Linked DNA regions of Homo sapiens: region 1 is linked to region 2. Evidence: fine-mapped expression QTL. Tissue or cell type: esophagus mucosa. Region 2 holds a variant in brackets; the other region holds the start of a gene. All regions are shown on one strand. Distances are from middle to middle.

The links. PIP is the estimated chance that this variant, and not a neighbour inherited with it, causes the effect.
Region 1: it holds the start of SMAD3, and the variant in region 2 is fine-mapped to the expression of SMAD3 in esophagus mucosa (GTEx, PIP above 0.99).

Annotation. Positions count from the first base shown.
Region 1 is chr15:67,060,875-67,069,380 of GRCh38, reverse strand. SMAD3 (SMAD family member 3) reads right to left here and starts at 3,779. Exons shown (of 9, transcript NM_005902.4): 1 at 3,021-3,779. The coding sequence starts at 3,226. It overlaps SMAD3-DT (SMAD3 divergent transcript), which reads left to right and starts at 5,199. Exons shown (of 6, transcript NR_135686.1): 1 at 5,199-6,265. RefSeq lists silencers at 2,563-2,652, 2,673-2,732, 2,983-3,032, 3,183-3,342, 3,513-4,002, enhancers at 2,453-3,221, 4,761-5,531, 6,689-6,833 and a cis regulatory region at 6,755-6,768.
Region 2 is chr15:67,162,467-67,170,466 of GRCh38, reverse strand. It overlaps SMAD3 (SMAD family member 3), which reads right to left. Exons shown (of 9, transcript NM_005902.4): 2 at 5,379-5,572; 3 at 5,083-5,214; 4 at 3,614-3,688. Among named protein-coding and RNA genes, the nearest start is that of SMAD3-AS1, 20 kb to the right of the region's middle. RefSeq lists enhancers at 1,603-2,272, 2,273-2,944, 2,945-3,614. The variant C/T (reference allele first, on the strand shown) is at 4,000.

The DNA.
Region 1 (8,506 bases), 100 kb after region 2:
ACTCAGGTACTCAAGCAGGTGAGGCATGAGAGGCTGTTATAAAACTTGTGTAAATTCTGCCAATCCTGCCAGACCTCAGAGTATCCTGACAGCCCCTTTGTTGGTGTATCTAAATGAAGCTCTTACCACTTCCTTGGCACCAATCTCTTTCACCTTCTTTATGTCGATAAGTGTGTATCACGCCAGCTCCCCTGATAATTGAAACAAGTCAGAGCTGGTGTCACAGAGAAGCAAGCCTGTGGTCTGGAAGTCCCTAGTATACAGCTCTAATTGCCAAATGTTGCTGTTGCTGCTCATGATTATATATTAGCCAAAACACACTTGGCTTAATCTCCTTAGACTGAGGGCTCCTTAAACCCCGGAGTCCAGATCTTGCAGAGTGTTTTTAAGCACCCAGTGACCAACCCCCCACACACAGGGGGAATGACTAAGTTAAACATTTTCCTTTCTCTACTTTCCAAACTAAAAGGCAGTTGTGGTGAAAGCAGACAATTTGACAAGCAACACTGCAATCTATGGGGCTTAGCAGACACATTGATATCACCAGCACAGGGCCAAACCAGCCACCTCCCCAAGACGTGGCCTTTAGTTTTCTGCCCACGACCAAAACAGCAGCAGCTGTTGCCAAGGGACACAAGGTGACCCAGAGGCGTGGGCACAAAATCCAAGGATGAAAATCCATTTTGTCTGGATCCACCCAAGCAACTGGGTTTCCCTAACTGAAAAAAAAGATGAAAAAAAAAATCTACTTTTGTATTCAGTCCTATCCAGGCAGGCAGAAGATGCCTCAGTCCTAACAAAGTCACGAGAAGGCCACAGGGCAGGTTGGCTTGAACTCTCAGAATCATCCAAAGCGTTCACACGTCTTAGGCTTCCAAAGTCTCAGCAGGACTTTGGAAGAGGAAAAGGCAGGCCAAAGGTATGGCCCCACAGAGGACAAACTCCTACCAAGGCAAGGGAAAGCAAGGCCTCTCTGCCAAGCTATCACCAGCCCAAAGATTAAAGAAGCAACCGCACATACAAAGATCCACAGGGCCCTCCCCAAGCTAACACAGCTTTAGCATTCAGCAAAGAATGTATTCAGGATCTTCAAAGTATAAAGCAGCATGGGGCAGCAGAAAGAGCACATTCAGGCAGAACCCCATGTCTATGACTCAAGCCTTTTCACCTCTCTCTTTTAAGGTTTCCTCTGCTTTAAAAATGTGATAATCTTAAGCCTAACAACCTTATCTACTTTCCATGGCTGGTTGCTTGCTTGCTTTCTGTCTTTTTTTGAGGACCTCAGAAAACCATGTGAAAGTGCTTTGTAAACTGTGAAACACTTTTCACAGCTGCCTGTTTTACAATTGATACCACTTTTTTTCTTCTGTTTCAATACATAAAGCACTTGTCTTCAATGCACCCAGGCAGATAAGGAGAAGGTAGGTTTGGCAGACCCCTCCCCAGAAAGAGAAGTAGCATACTCACCCACTCTACCCTAGCCACCCCCACGGAAGGAATACAGAAGAATTAACAACCAGAGCTGGAACCAAATCCCAGGTCTCTCTGACCATCACATCACACCACCTCCTCTGAAGTCAATTCTGGCTCCCGATCACACGCCCAGAGACTTCCCCAGACAGCACACCGCCTTCCCTCCCCCTTTATTGACTGGATCCACCCAGTTAAAAAAAATTTAAGTCCGCACTCCCACCATATGTGGCATTTATTTCCAGGGGAGGCCTGCCCTCGGTTCCCGTGGACAGATGTTGCTTTGTGCCTGCCTGACTCGCCTGGCAGCCCCTGTACAACTGCCCCAAGCAGGTGGCCAAGGATGGAGTCCACCCTGGCCCAGGAGCAGGGATGACAATCCCTTTGCGGCTGACAGTCCCTGGTGCTTTCTACTCATTCCTCGGCAGCCTGGGACCCCCAAAAGAGCCAGCCCCCAACACACACGCTCTCTCCCTTGGTTCAGCATCAAAGGAGGCTGAGAGGTAGAGACAGGAAGCCAAGGTACCCGCACCCCCAGTTCCCAGCCAGGCACATCTAAGCTAAGGAAGGCCCTGGGGGAGTGAAGTCACTGACCCCTTCTATCAGCCATCTGTGGGCTCCCGCCCGACCTAGCTAGCGCGCAACGGGAAGGATAAAGGAGATCCAGACAGATGGCAGCGCGCTTTGGGAAGGAAGGCTCTACAGGAATGCGAGGGCCGATGCGAGGCCCACTTTGGGGTGTGTTTTGTTATCTGCCCGGCTGCAGCCTGCCCCTCTCCCTCGTTCTGCACGGTTTCAAAATCTCTTGGACCAAAAGAAGGGCAAAAGAGTCGGGATGGGGGGGTGGGAGGTGGGAGAAGACCCTATTTTCCGCCACTTGTCTCTCCCATTTGGAAGTCAGAGCATTGCACTGCAACCAAAGTGCGTGCATGCTCAGGGGGCGGGAGACTGGCACAACCGAGTCTAAAAATACTCGATAAAAATGCTAATCCCGAAGGCAAAGAAAGAACGAAGAAGGAATCTGTCAATCACTAGGCTCCCGCTCCTCACCCACAGCCCCAGCTGTACGGACCGCATTCCTGTAGAGGAAAGTGGGGAGACCCGACTGAAGAAAAGAAACGCAAAGACACCACCACCTCCACGAGCGCGGGCCGCGGGGGCGGGAGGCGGCGGCGGAGGAGGGGCTCCGGCCCGCGGAGCCGAACAAAGCGGGCCTCAACTTCCAGCCCCAGCTCCCCGGAGTGGGGGCGGCCGAGTCCCGCAGCAACCCGCTCTCCCCTCCCGGAGGTGGAAAGGGAATGTGAGGTGTGGAAGCCAGAGTGCCGCGTGGAAGCCTCGGGCTCTGATCTTTGCAAATCAGAGATGGTTTTGTTTGGGGTCCCCCCACCCCCTTCCTGCCCGCGCTCTCCCACTCTCACACACACGCACCCACACAGTCTCACTCCCTCCCTCTCTCTCCCTCTTCCCATCTCCAGCCCCACTGGGTCGGCCCCGCAGTGCCAGGGGGCTGGGCCGGCGTGACCCCGGGTCCCCCCCGGGCGGGCCCCCACCTGGGGATGGTGATGCACTTGGTGTTGACGTTCTGCGTGGTGATGGCCTTCTCCAGCTCGTCCAGCTGCCCCGTCTTCTTGAGTTTCTTGACCAGGCTCTTGACCGCCTTCTCGCACCATTTCTCCTCCTGCCCGTTCTGCTCGCCCTTCTTCCAGCCCAGCAGGCGCTTCACGATCGGGGGAGTGAAAGGCAGGATGGACGACATGGCTGGGGAGGGCGCGCGGGCGGCGAGGAGCGCCCCCGGCGGGGCTGGGCTCGACGGGACGCCGGGGGCGCAGAGGGGAGCTCGGCCGGGGCCTGCCGCGGTCGCCCAAACTTCGCCTCAACTCTCGGCGAAGTTGCCGGGGCGCCGGGCCGGGCCGCGGCGCTGCAGCCTGCGGGGCTCGGCGCGCGGCCCTGCGCCCGGAGCGGCTCCCACGGCGAAGAGAAGAGCGGCCGGGCGGGCGGACGGCAGCAGTGCAGGGTCGGGAAGGCCCCGAACGCGGGGCGGAGGCGGCGGCCGCGAGACTCCAAGTGGCAGCAGAAGTTTGGGTTTCCGCACGGGGTAGCTGTTTGGGTGCCGCCTCCGGGAAGGAAAGTCCAACCCCCGGCCAAACTTCGCTCGCCTCGCTAGCTTTGATGCGCAGATCCCTCCGCCTCTGCGGCCTCACCGCCCCGCCACCCTCCTCCTCCCGGCTCGCCGCTCGCTCGCTCGCTGGCTGGGCCGGCCCGGGGCGTGCGCCGCGCTCCCGCTCCCGCCCGCTCCCAGTCTGTGTTTCATGCAAATCCGCGTGCAGCCTCCTTTCCAAGTGCTGTCACCGCCCCCTCGCCGCCGGGGCTCCCCGCCTCCTCCCCCGCGCCCCGCCACCTCCTCCCGCGGGCGCCCTGCCCGCCCCCTGCTCCGGGGAGGGCGCCCGGCCGGCCACCACCCCGCGCCCAGCACGCCCACGTGGGCGACCCGGGCGGCGGCAGTCCTGGCTGGAGCGCGCGGGACCCTGCGCGGCCCCGACCTGAAGTCGGGCGGGCGCGGGGAGGAAGTCCTGGGAAACACGGCGAGAGGGGCCTCGGGCGGGAGGGCTGAGCGCGGCCCGTGGCGTCCGCTCTCGGAGTCCACACTCGGGCGGCTCGGTTGGAGTTGCGGGCCGGAGAGGGTTGGACTCGCAGCAAGTAAGCGTCGTCCGGACGCGAGTGCACCCTGGAGAGGACCCGAGCCCGAGAGGGGGCGCGCGGAAGGCCCGGGCCCAGGAAGTTGGGGCCCGCACTTGGCCTCGCGCTTGCTGATCCCCGTCAAGGCCCTTGGCCGGCGCCGGCGCCCCTGGGCTGTTTTTATTCTCTAGTCGGTGAGATCACACCGGCCGAGAGCCTCGGGAACGTGTGCGGAGGAGGAGGGGGTGAGAAGTGGGTCCTCAGAAGTGGAGAGCTGGGGACACCAGTGACAACCTGGACAATGGCTGGAGCCAGGGGTCTCTTGAGCCTTGTGAACCGAGTGCCCGGCAGAAAATGAGCCTCAAGGACATCTGTTGAGTTCTTGAAGGAATGAATGGAGGGGCTTTCGAATTTATCTTTGAAAGAAATTTACATAACAGGGTGTTTGTTGCTGGATCTCCTGATAGAGAAGGATCGGAAATTTGATAATTGCCAATAAATGGAAGAGAGTTTTGTTTCCAAAGCAATGAACTCACAAAAAAGTGGGGCAAGACAGGAGTTTTCGGAGAGTTTGTGTATTCAAAAAAAGCAAAACAACAACAAACCAATTGGCACATTGGGGAGCTCCGCGGCTTTTCTCCCCACCAAAAGAATTCAGGGGCGTCTGCCCGCAGGGCCCTCGGCGGTTTTCAGGAGCTACTCCAGGCCCCTCGGCCTTTCTCTTGCTGCCTCCCGCAGCCGACTAGCCGGTGTCTAAGCCCTTTGTTTGTTTTTAACAGCAGGAATCTCCCACCCCCACCCCTGCTTTGTTAAAAAAAAAAAGTTATCTGGAACCCTCAAGTGGGTGGGGAGTTACAAAGCCCTGTGAGGTGTGGCGGAATCCACAGTCAGCCCAGAAGCGGCAGGGGCCCTTGCCTTGCTCCGGAGAACCGCCTCCCACAAGCCAATCCGCAGCTGCTGCTGCAGAAGTGCGCTGTGCTCCTCACCCTCCTCTCTTCCTAAATACCCGCCTGAAAAGGAGAATACGTGAAAGCCAACTGAGGCTTGACAACCTGGCTTCCGTTCCTTGCTGGTCCTCCTGTTAACGCGCTGCCGCTGTGGTCTTAGGTTTCACTCTCCTCTTCCCGTCCGTCAAGAGAGACAAGGATGACACAATCCACATTTATTGATTGCTTTCTTCATTCCGGGTAGTCCGCCTGCTGCCCTTTGATTCAGTCTTAACAGTGGTTGGTGAGGTAGATGTTCCTGTGCCTCACGTTTACGGAGGCACAGAGAGATTACATTACTTACTCAGGGTTCCAAGTGGCAGAGCTGGAATTTGAACCCAATACTTTGTTGAAGCCTCAGTCTCCGATCTTGAGACTGCACCCAGCTGCCTGGGTCACGGAAGGCAAAGATGACATCATTGATCGAGCTCTTTGCAAAACAGTTCTCTACACGGGCACACTGTTGTAACACTGCAAGGATTATTTGCTCACCTGTAAAATGGGGCTAGAGGTAGCTTCCCTCGCGATCTCCTAGGGTGGCTGTGGGAAGCTCATGTGAAAAGGTTTGCATTGCTAATGCCATGAAAAGTGGTGGAGGGAGGTCAAATAAGTTTAACACACATTGACGGAGCAGCTCTGAGTTGCAGCCCTCCTATTCAGTTCCTGAACTTCCAAAATAAAAGACTAAGGTTTTCAAGGCGTTCACAGCCTAGAGAAGCATCAAAGGGTGGGGATGAGGATGATGTGACTGAGTGGGCAAAGATGGGCAGGGGCCTTGCAGTCATCATCGTCCAGTAAAGTGTTAATCTTAACCTGAACAAGTCCAACCATTGAGAGGTAGCCAAAGAAAGTAAGAGGGGCTCAGGATCCATCAGTGACTGGCCTGGCTTCCAATCCCGGCTCTTTCTCTTCTTCCCCTTGGGCAGCGTCCGTTCTCTCCGCTGTAAGAATGGAGCAAGCGGTTCTCACTGTGCAGAGTGGTGGATCCAGAAAGAGCATTGTAACTGTCCTCCTGTAGTTCAAGTCCTTTATGTTACAGAGAGAGCAATGTCTGCTGAAGGAGAGTGATTTGCACTGTAGAGGAAGAGCGTCAGAGAGATTTGAGGATTACATGTAGTAGAAGGACCTGACAGGTACTTCACCCTGTAAAATCATGGTATGGGAAGGGGCCCTCATTCAGCCCTCTCATTTTCCTGAGGGGAGGAAATAACTAGGCAGCCAGCTAGTTAGTGTGGCAGAACCATGCTTCCCTGCTGGCATCCGTGTGACAAGAACAGCTGTGCATGCAGAAAAATAGTGCTGGACCCACCTACAAGTCTAATAAGTGCCATTTCTGGGCTAGTTCTTTCTCCTCAGGCCTGTTTCTCCAAGAGAAGTCCCTCCACTGGGGGACTAAGTCCAGTTTCAGAAAGCTCTGAGGAGGGCTGAGGAACTGATTCTTCCAGTGCTGAGAAGACCCTGCATGTTCTCTTGATCTTGACTTTGGGCAGTGAATGGGTGGGCTGCTCTGGATGGGTACAACTCTGTTCTGGCACCTGGTCTTTTGGGGCCCAGCCATACCTGCTTTTGCAGAGGTTGTCCTTGGGAGGGAAACATTAGCCCAGTTAATTTTTCACCATGGTAAGTGCAAAGTTCAGGAGAGGTGGGATGGAAGTGGAGACAGCAACTGTTTCCCTGGGAATAGTCCATCCTATGAACAGTTCACCTCGTGAATAGACACATCAGAGGGTTTTCGTGTATTTGGAGTGGCTCCCAGGTAGGCCAGCCACTCCAAATACACGAAAGAAACAAACACCTGACTTCAATTCTGATTATTTTCCCATTAGCTTAAGGGTATTTAATCAACAAGTAGTGAATCTAGAAAAAGCATTAAAATCATCTTCATCTTACACAGACAGAAAGTGATGTCTGTAAGGGAAGGTGATTTGCACTGTGAAGATAAGTAGCCAAATCAGGACTAGAACTTTTATCAGAGTGCCCTCACCTAAGAGAGAGCCTCTGTCTACAGTCAGATCTCTACCTATAGCTCTTTGTAACACCTTACACGTGTGAGCTCTTCTGTGGCACCAGAATGACCTGGGTTAAACTTCTACCTCTTCCACTTCCGGCTGTGTGACTCTGGGCACGTTCCTTAACTCTGTGTGTGTCAGTTTTCTCATCCATAAAATGTGATAATTACAACACCTTCTTAGGATTGCTGTATGGAATCAGATTAAATCATATAGAAAGCTTGGTACAAGCACATAGTAGGTTCTCAATATACATGGATGTGATTCATGCATACTATAAAGTGCTATGCAAAAGTGAGAAGCAATGAATTCCATGTACATAAAACAAATGTATAGATTTTAAACACAGTTCCAACAGAAAATAGTAAGACACAGAGGGAAAGGAATAGCATAATGCTACTATGTAAAACAAATTACATATACACAAAATAATTATATACATTTTGAAAGAAGTTATACAAATAAAAAGATATACATTGAACCACTTCACATCCATTAGGATGGCTATTATCTTTTTTTCTTTGTTTTTGAGATGGAGTTTCGCTCTTGTTGCCCAGGCTGGAGTGCAATGGTGCCATCTTGGCTCACTGCAACCTCCGCCTCCCGGGTTCAAGCAATTCTCCTGCCTCAACCGCCTGAGTAGCTGAGATTACAGGCATGTGCCACCCACGCCTGGCTAATTTTGTATTTTTAGTAGAGACGGGATTTATCCATGTTGGTCAGGCTGGTCTCAAACTCCTGATCTCAGCTGATTCCTCCCACCTTGGCATCCCAAAGTGCTGGGATTACAGGCGTGAGCCACCGCGCCTGGCCAGCTATTCGCTTTTAAAAAACAGAAAATAACATGTTGGAAAGGATGTGAAGAAATTAGAATCCTTGCACATTGCTGGTGAAGATGTGAAGTAGTGCTGCCTCTGAGGAAAATGCTGTGGTGTATGTATGGCAGTTCCTCAAAAAACTGAGCAGAATTACCATATGATCCGGTCATTCTGTTTCTGGGGATATACCCAAAAGAATTGAAAGCAGGGACTACGAGTATTTCCACACCCATGTCCGTAGCAGCCTTATTCACAACAGTCAAAAGGTAGAAGTAACTCAAGTGTCCATCAATGGATGGGTGGAAAAACAAGATGTATTGTAGTCACACAATGGAATTTTTAAATTTTATTTATTTATTTATTTAGAGACAGAGTTTCGCTCTTATTGCCCTGGCTGGAGTGCAGTGGCGCGATCTTGGCTCACTGCAACCTCCACCTCCCAGGTTCAAGTGATTCTCCTGCCTCATCCTCCCTCGTAGCTGGGATTACAGGTATGTGCCACCACACCCAGCTAATTTTGTATTTTTAGTAGAGATGGGGTTTCACC
Region 2 (8,000 bases):
TAGCCCAACACAGCAGAAAGAAAACCCTGGACTGAGGGGTCCCAGGAGAAGGCCTAGCCCATACCCTTGCCTCTACTTTCCCTCCCTGGGCCCCAATTTCTTGTCTGGAATGAATGCATTGAGTGGATGATCTCAGAGGTCTCTTATGATTATGATCTCAGAGGTCTCAGATAGTTTTATGATCCTAACCAAGACTCCCAGCTCAGGGCTGCTAAATTCTCAACTAGAATAAGTGACACATTTTTTCTTTAGCTTACACCACCTGCCCTATTAACTATGCCCTCAGGAAAATGAGAGGAGCAGGGAAGCCCTTCTCCCAAGCTGCAAAGACCCAGGAAGCAGGAGGCCAGCCCTCCCACACAGGCAGGGCTTGAGGCCTCCCCAGCATCACCAGCCACCGACCTTGGTCAGAGGCTGCAGCAGCTCAGGTGCTGGAAAGATCAATTTCAGGAAACTCACAAACCTGCCTCAGAAACCCTGCAACTCAGCAACCAGACAAACACTTTATGCAAAAGATGATGATGCACGTGGGAAAAAGTCTCAATCTACCCAATTCTTACTCTATTATGTTCTCTACACCTCTCACCTCCAGAAAAAAAGAACTCACATGGTATCAGCCTTCAAAAATAAAACAGTGGACACTTTTCCAGAGCAGCATCCTGCTCGTCCCCGCTCCTCTGTTCCTCTATCAAGAAGGCTGCGGAGGCCGGGTGCAATGGCTCACATCTGTAATCCCAGCACTTTGAGAGGCTGAGACTGGGGGATCACTTGAGCCCAGGAGTTTGAGACCAGCCTGGGTGATATAGGGAGACCCTGTCTCTACAGAAAAAAAAAAAAAAAAAAATAAGCCGTAAGTGGTGAAGGCTGAGGCTGGACAATTACTTGAGCCTAGGAGATGGAGGCTGCAGCGAGCTGTGTTTGCACCACTGCACACCAGCCTGGGCAGCAGTGAGACTGTTTCAAAAAATAAAAATAAAAAAGGAGACTATTTGTTAACCACCCTATGGGGTCTAATTCCACCCCATGAAATCTATCAGTCCTGAGACTGGGTCCAGCATCTGGCCTCAAGTGAATGCTGCCTTGCGCTGTTTGTGGGAATCTCTTCTTTTGCCCCAACTCAGCTGTAACCTCCTTGAGGGCAAGGGAAGAACCACGGATTTCTCCTTCTCCCCTGTAACCCCAAATGCAAAGGGGGATGTGGAATATTCACCGAGAGAACTAAGTTACAGAATCAGTCACAGGGTCTAGACAACCCCACGAATCAGCTACGTGAGTTTGGCTAAGCCGTTTAACTTCTATGAGCCTTAATTTTTTCCTCAGGTATAAAATGAGGATAATATCATCTACTGTGTGACATGTAAAAATTAAGTAAGACTGTGCATATAAAAATGCTTACACCATGACCGCTACATGGTAGGCACTGGATAAATGCTTGTCCCCTGTTTTGTGCTGGCCTGAACCACAAAGACCTAGGAAGTCCAAGGGGCCTTCTCACAAGTCTAAAAGGGCGCATATGTAGGTGAAGGGACATGGGGAACAACGTGACCCTCTGGCCCGAGACACTACCACACCCTGGGGGGCAGGGAAGCCAAGCCCGTGAGCAACTGGACTATCCAAGCAGGCAACTCTGAAGAACAGAGACTAAAACAGGAGAGCCCCCACCCACACACTGGCTGGGGTCCGCAAGTCTGGTCTGTCTCTACTGTAGATAAATCACTCATGTTCACAACAGGACCCTGCAGGCACACTTAATGAGAAGAAAGGAAGAAGGGAGAGGGGACAGAGTAAAGGGAGGCACAAGGAGGAAGAGGAGGGAGAAGAAACAAGAGCTGACAGGGTGAAATCTGGGCTGCTCTTTCCAATCTCCAGCCCCTCTGGTCCATGTTTGTTTGTAACAATAATCATTGTGCAAATATGGAGAGCAGCAGAAAGGGAAGAGGGAGCGCAGAGTGGGAAGAAACACAGCAGCTGGAGACATGCTGCTCCGCTGGCCTGCTTCCCACGCCTGCACTGAATAGCTGCAAGCTTGCAGCGGTCACTTGGCATCGGATACAGGAAGGTCTTCGATGCATTCCAGCTGGTTCGCGCTACTAGTCACTCCGCCGGGTGGGTGTGTTTCACCGGGTGTGCTCAACCCAAAAGTGCCACGATGTCCAGGCTGGATTTCAGCAACTACAATGTACATGCGAGTCTCTTTCGGTCTCTCAGGAATTGCACAACCTCAGCCAGGTGCGGTGTAATCCCAGCACTTTGGGAGGTCGAAGCGGGCAGATCACCTGAGGTCAGGAGTTTGAGACCAGCCTAGCCAACATGGCGAAACCCTGTCTCTACTAAAAATACACAAATGAGCCGGGCGTGGTGCTGCATTGCCTGTAATCCCAGCTACTTGGGAGGCTGAGGCAGGATAATAGCTTGAACCCAGGAGGCAGAGGTTGCAGTAAGCTGAGATCGCGCTACTACACGCCAGCCTGGGCAACAGAGGGAGACTCTGTCTGGGAAAGGTGGGGGAAGGAATTGCACAATCTCTTCTGGGCTGTGTGCGAGGGCAGGTGGCTCTGCTGTGTCTAGCGGCTCTGTGTGTACGAGGCATGCCCACCACCATCGGAATGGAACATCTGCGTGGTTCCCTCTCCCCTTCTCCTCCTCTCCCAACCACACACAACTCAGTACACATTCTATGTGGCAGCTGGGGTTCAATTCAAGAAGCTGCTGGTCTGGAGCCAATTTGGTCCTATAACAAATGATATGGGAAACATCTGGAGATGTAGCAGGAGAGAAATAAGCCCTGCCCCTCACGGCAGGAGCACACACATCACATGTGGTTGTCACACAAAAATACTGGCTTCAGGGGTCTCCACTGGTCATCAGAAGAGGCATTAGTTCCATTCAGCCTCTCCTTGCCTCCCATGTGACTGCTTGAGGTGATCAAGGCCACTCTCTACCCTGCTGCTGGTGACATCTCACTAAGGCACAGGCCCTGCTTACAGCCTGCAGCGGTTCCCATCAGCCCTGACTAAATGCCAAGTGGTCTGGCTAGCTTGAAGGTCCACCACACTGGGACCCCTGTGTGGCAGGCCCTCCCATCTTCTCCCCACTGGAGAGAGTGTATCCTCCAGCCACGCTGAGCTCCCTGGGCTAGACACTCTCTGGACTCCAGACACACTGAGCTCTTACTGTCCCCAGAATGCACCAGGCTGTCCTGCCCAACCCCCATGACTCTGCCTGGCACACCCCTTGCCCACTCTAACAGCTTGGCTAACACTTACACATCACCAAGACTCAACCTGGGGAAAAACCTGGACTGCAAGGTGCTGCTCCTCCCCAGACCGGGTGAAGTGGCCCTGCTGTGTGCCTGGTGCCATGCGGCATCTTCCATCAGGGCATACACGAGATGGCCCAGTGACTACTGACTGTCCTGTCAATCTCCCCCATCATCTGTGAGCAGCTCGGACCCTCTTCTATGCCCTGCCCCTTGCACATCGCGGTTGCTCTACAAATACTGGAGAGAGAGATAGAAGGGAGGGAGGGAGAGGGCGAAGAGGAAGGGATGGAAGGGATGAACCCACCAGCTGCTAATCAGTTAAGAATAAGAGCATGACCCTGCATGACTGACCTGCGTCCATGCTGTGGTTCATCTGGTGGTCACTGGTTTCTCCATCTTCACTCAGGTAGCCAGGGGGTGGGGTCTCTGGGAATCAGAAGGAAGGTGGTCTGTTAAAAGGCCTTCACAGCTTGGCTCTGAGACACCTTTTGCAAAGACATCACACATGCACACCATGATGCTAGCATCCGTGGCTGTAGGAGCTCCAGGTCTTGGAGTAGAGGTTCCAGCTCTTGGTTCTGTTGTCCTCGCCCCTGTCCACCTCTGACTCCCGCTTGGATCATAACTGCCTTTGCTCACGCAGGACCGGATCAACTCCCAAGTCTGAAATGTGTACTCCTAGAGCCTCTGCCAGGCTAACTTATCCTGGTCCTTCAAGGTGAGGGTTAAGCCCCACC[C/T]CCTCCAGGGAGGCGTCCAGACTTGCCTCCGCCTCACCCCTTTCTGTCCTCTGAAGATCTGCAGGCTCAGACCCACCCTTTGGTCCCTACTATCTTCTTCTGTGCAGACCAGGTGTTATTATTTGTTGTCTCTAAGGGACGTGTCCTCACTCAGCAGTTAGGTTGCAAGTTCAATGACGGCAAAGACAGTGTGATCTATTTCTCTGAAACCTCCCCCAGACCCTGACTGAAGCCCTCCAAGATTTGCTCTTTGAACAGGGAGTAGTTGACTTACCCGCGGGACGCCAGGGCTACCCGCAAAGGATCTGAGAAGGTTGGACAGTGGGTCTCCTCCTTAACACTCTGACCCAAGCACACAGGCCTGTAGCCAATCTCAGCCCAGTAAACTAACCCAGGATGAACGTCACGTCCAAATTAGAATGCTCTAAGAGGAACGCAGCAGGATTACTGCCCCAGCAAGCAAAAGTGACTAGCCCAAGTGCTGCCAAGCACAGCTTTCCTGGAGTCTGAAAGTGCTGGTGATTCACACGTTATTTGCATGTAAATGAGGGGCTTCTAAAAACATTTGCAGTCTTTGACGGCAAAGCCCATTTCTCCCTGCAGAGTGAAAACTCAAAGTCACTTCAATTCCCACCCAGGTTGGAGCCCCTCACCGAGGCCTGATGCCCAGGCGAATTTACAGAGCCAGCTCTCCGCACTTGCTGCCTGGCCCTCAGCTCACTCCCCGCCTCTGCAGACCCCCAGTCTATTGGGACTGAACACCAGTCCGGGCCTCAAGGGCGGTGAGAGAAACAGTGTTGCTATTTCCGCTTCCAAAATAAATGACTGCACCAAGGCCGGGCGGAAGGGTCACGCTGCTCCTCTATGCCAAGAAAAGCATCACTAGTGAGGGGGGAGCTGAGGTCATGGGTCCTCTCCCAACAGGGATGCGGTTCTGAGTCAGGGGCCCTCAGGCCAGAGCTGTGCGCAAAGAGGGGGTGAGCGGGGGACGGCCAGGGGGCAGAGATTGGGGCCACAGGACTGATGTCGGGGCTGACCGCTGCCCCTGCCTCCCAGGCCAGCCTGTGCCGCCCACGTGCCTACCTGGAATATTGCTCTGGGGCTCGATGCCTGCGGGGAAGTTAGTGTTTTCGGGGATGGAATGGCTGTAGTCGTCCAGTGGGGGGAACTCGGCCGGGATCTCTGTGTGGCGTGGCACCAACACAGGAGGTAGAACTGTCCGGGGGAGACAGAGCAGAGGTGGCTCAGTGTCGATGCCAGACCAGCACCAAAGTCCCCGCACCCCCAAGTGCACCGCAGACCCTCGGGGGGATGGGGAGCCGGGGAGAGGTGATGACCCCTGGCACCTGCTGTCCCCACAGGCAGGCCAGGCAGCATACCTGGTGTCTCTACTCTCTGGTAGTGGTAGGGATTCACGCAGACCTCGTCCTTCTTCATATTGAAGGCGAACTCACACAGCTCCATGGCCCGTAGCTCGTGGTGGCTGTGCAGGTCTGGCCATCGCCACAGGCGGCAGTAGATGACATGAGGGAGCCCCTTCCGATGGGACACCTGCAACCGGCCATCCAGGGACCTGCCAGGACGGGGAGGGGCAGAAAGAGAGGGAAATGTGGATTGTGCTTGCTTTCTGCAGAGTCCGGCCTCCTACTTTCAGACACTTGGAAAGCTCTCTCTCCCCTCATTTCTCCCAGATCCAGAGGTCCAGGAGATCAGAGCACTGCTAGCTGAGAGTGCTGGGAGGGATCTCAGGAGAAGACAACAAAGGCCCCGTGAGGACTCCCAGCTGGCAGAGCGGGCCTCACCCACCAGTCCCCGGTGGGTTCCCCAACTTTGTACTGCTCTTCAGGGAGTGGCATTCCATGGGAAGGGCCCGCACTTCAGTCACTTCAGTTGTGCTTGGAAAAGGTCCAGGAGCCACTCATCGGCTTCCTACTCAGCCCAGAGGTGTGGAGAGGGGACAGGGCTGGGGAAGACAATGAGAGTTCTTTAGGCACAGATATGAGGACTACAGTGATCCAAAGAAGAGTGACAAAGTACAAAGGCTGTCTCCCCTCATTCACTCAGGTCTTCCCTTGCACATTAGAAAGTCAGGGGAAAAAAAGAAAACTTGCCTTTCCTCCTCTTTTTTTTTTTTTTTTTTTTTTTTTTTTTCTGAGACGGAGTCTCGCTCTGTTGCCCAGGCTGGAGTGTAGTGGCGCCATCTCGGCTCACTGCAAGCTCTGCCTCCCGGGTTCATGCCATTCTCCCGCCTCAGCCTCCTGAGTAGCTGGGACCACAGGCACCCGCCACTACGCCCAGCTAATTTTGTTTTTGTATTTTTAGTAGAGACGTGGTTTCACTGTGTGAGCCAGGATGGTCTCGATCTCCTAACCTCGTGATCTGCCCGCCTCAGCCTCCCAAAGTGCTGGGATTTCAGGCGTGAACCACCGTGCCTGGCCCCTCCTTTCTTTTTTAGTTATTTGTGGTGAGCAGGGAGTGAAAGACGGAAATTAAAGGGATTTTTTTTTTTTTTTTTTTTTTTTTACTTTTGATACAGGGTGTTGCTCTGTCACTCAGGCTGGAGTGCAGTGGCATGATCTCGGCTCACTGCAACCTCCGCCTCCCAGGCTCAAGTGATCCTCCCAGCTCAGCTTCCCAAGTAGCTGGGACTGCAGGGGCACACTACTGTGCCTACTTACAATTGGCCAGTGCCATGACCCTGTGTGAACCATGTCTTCTATGGTGATTTGGCCAAGCAGCTATGACCCGGTGCCCTTACCTCTCAAGCCAGGCCAAAGTGTGGTCCCTGACCAGCAGCAGAGGTTCAGGGAAGTTTGTTAAAAATGTACATTCTCAGCGCCTACCCCAACCTACTAAATCAGAATCTTTCCCTTTGTGAAATCCCCAGGTGATCTGGATGATGAGAGTCTGGGTGGCTTACAGGAAAGGACTGGGGAGCTTGGGGCGGCAAAAGCATTGTCAGCTACAGGCAAGGCTGGGAGGCAGAAGGCTTCTGGAGGGACGTAAAACTTCAGATAGTGTCTGGTATTAGACAGGTGAGGAGGTGCCACTAAAATGGAGTCCCTTATTTAACACATATTTAATGAGCACCTATTATGTGTGACACTAAGGATACAGTGGTAAGGAAAGAGACTTCACTATGAGAAAAGGCCAGCAAAGTGGTCCCTGTCTGCAGGGACCCTCCATTCCACTGGGCAAGACCGGCATTAATCAAATAATCACCAAAACCACTTTGGGAGGCCGAGGCGGGTGGATCGCTTGAGGCCAGGAGTTCAAAACCAGCCTGGCCAACATGGTGAAACCCTGTCTCTACTAAAAGTACAAAAATCAGCCAGGCATGGTGGCGGGCGCCTGTAATCCCAGCTACTCAGGAGGCTGAGGCAGGAGAATCACTTGAACCTGGGAGGGGGAGGTTGCAGTGAGCCAAGATTGTGCCACTGCACTCCAGCCTGGGCGACAGAGCAAGACTCCGTTTCAAATCATCATCATCATCATCATCATCATCATCATCATCATCATCACAGAAACCTACAATTACACACAATGAAAGTGTCCTGAACGAAAATAACAAGGAACCCCAAGAGTGTATGACCATGGCACCCCACTTTGCTGAAGGACTGGACAGGGCATCTCAGAGGAGGTGATGGTTGACCTGAAGGCCTAAAGGGTAAGTAAGAACTAACCAGGCAAAGGGGTGCGGGAGAAGGGCAGTACAAGCAGAGGGAAAGGCACACACAAAGGCCCTGTGGAAAGTGGAAAACATGGTGAGGTCGGAAGAACAGAATGAAGGCCAGAAGGACTGGAGAGGGGATCATGAGAGAGAGCTGGCTTGAGACGAGGCCGGGGAGGCAGGCAGGGGTACTCTGCAGGGCCCCAAAGGCCATGATAAAGGCTTCTCCTGTTTTCTAAAAGCAGTATGTAGCCTCTGAGATGTGTAAGTGGGCTGTGCATACGTGTGAAAGAGACAGGCCCTGTGGAACTCTGGCTACGTGTGACCAACA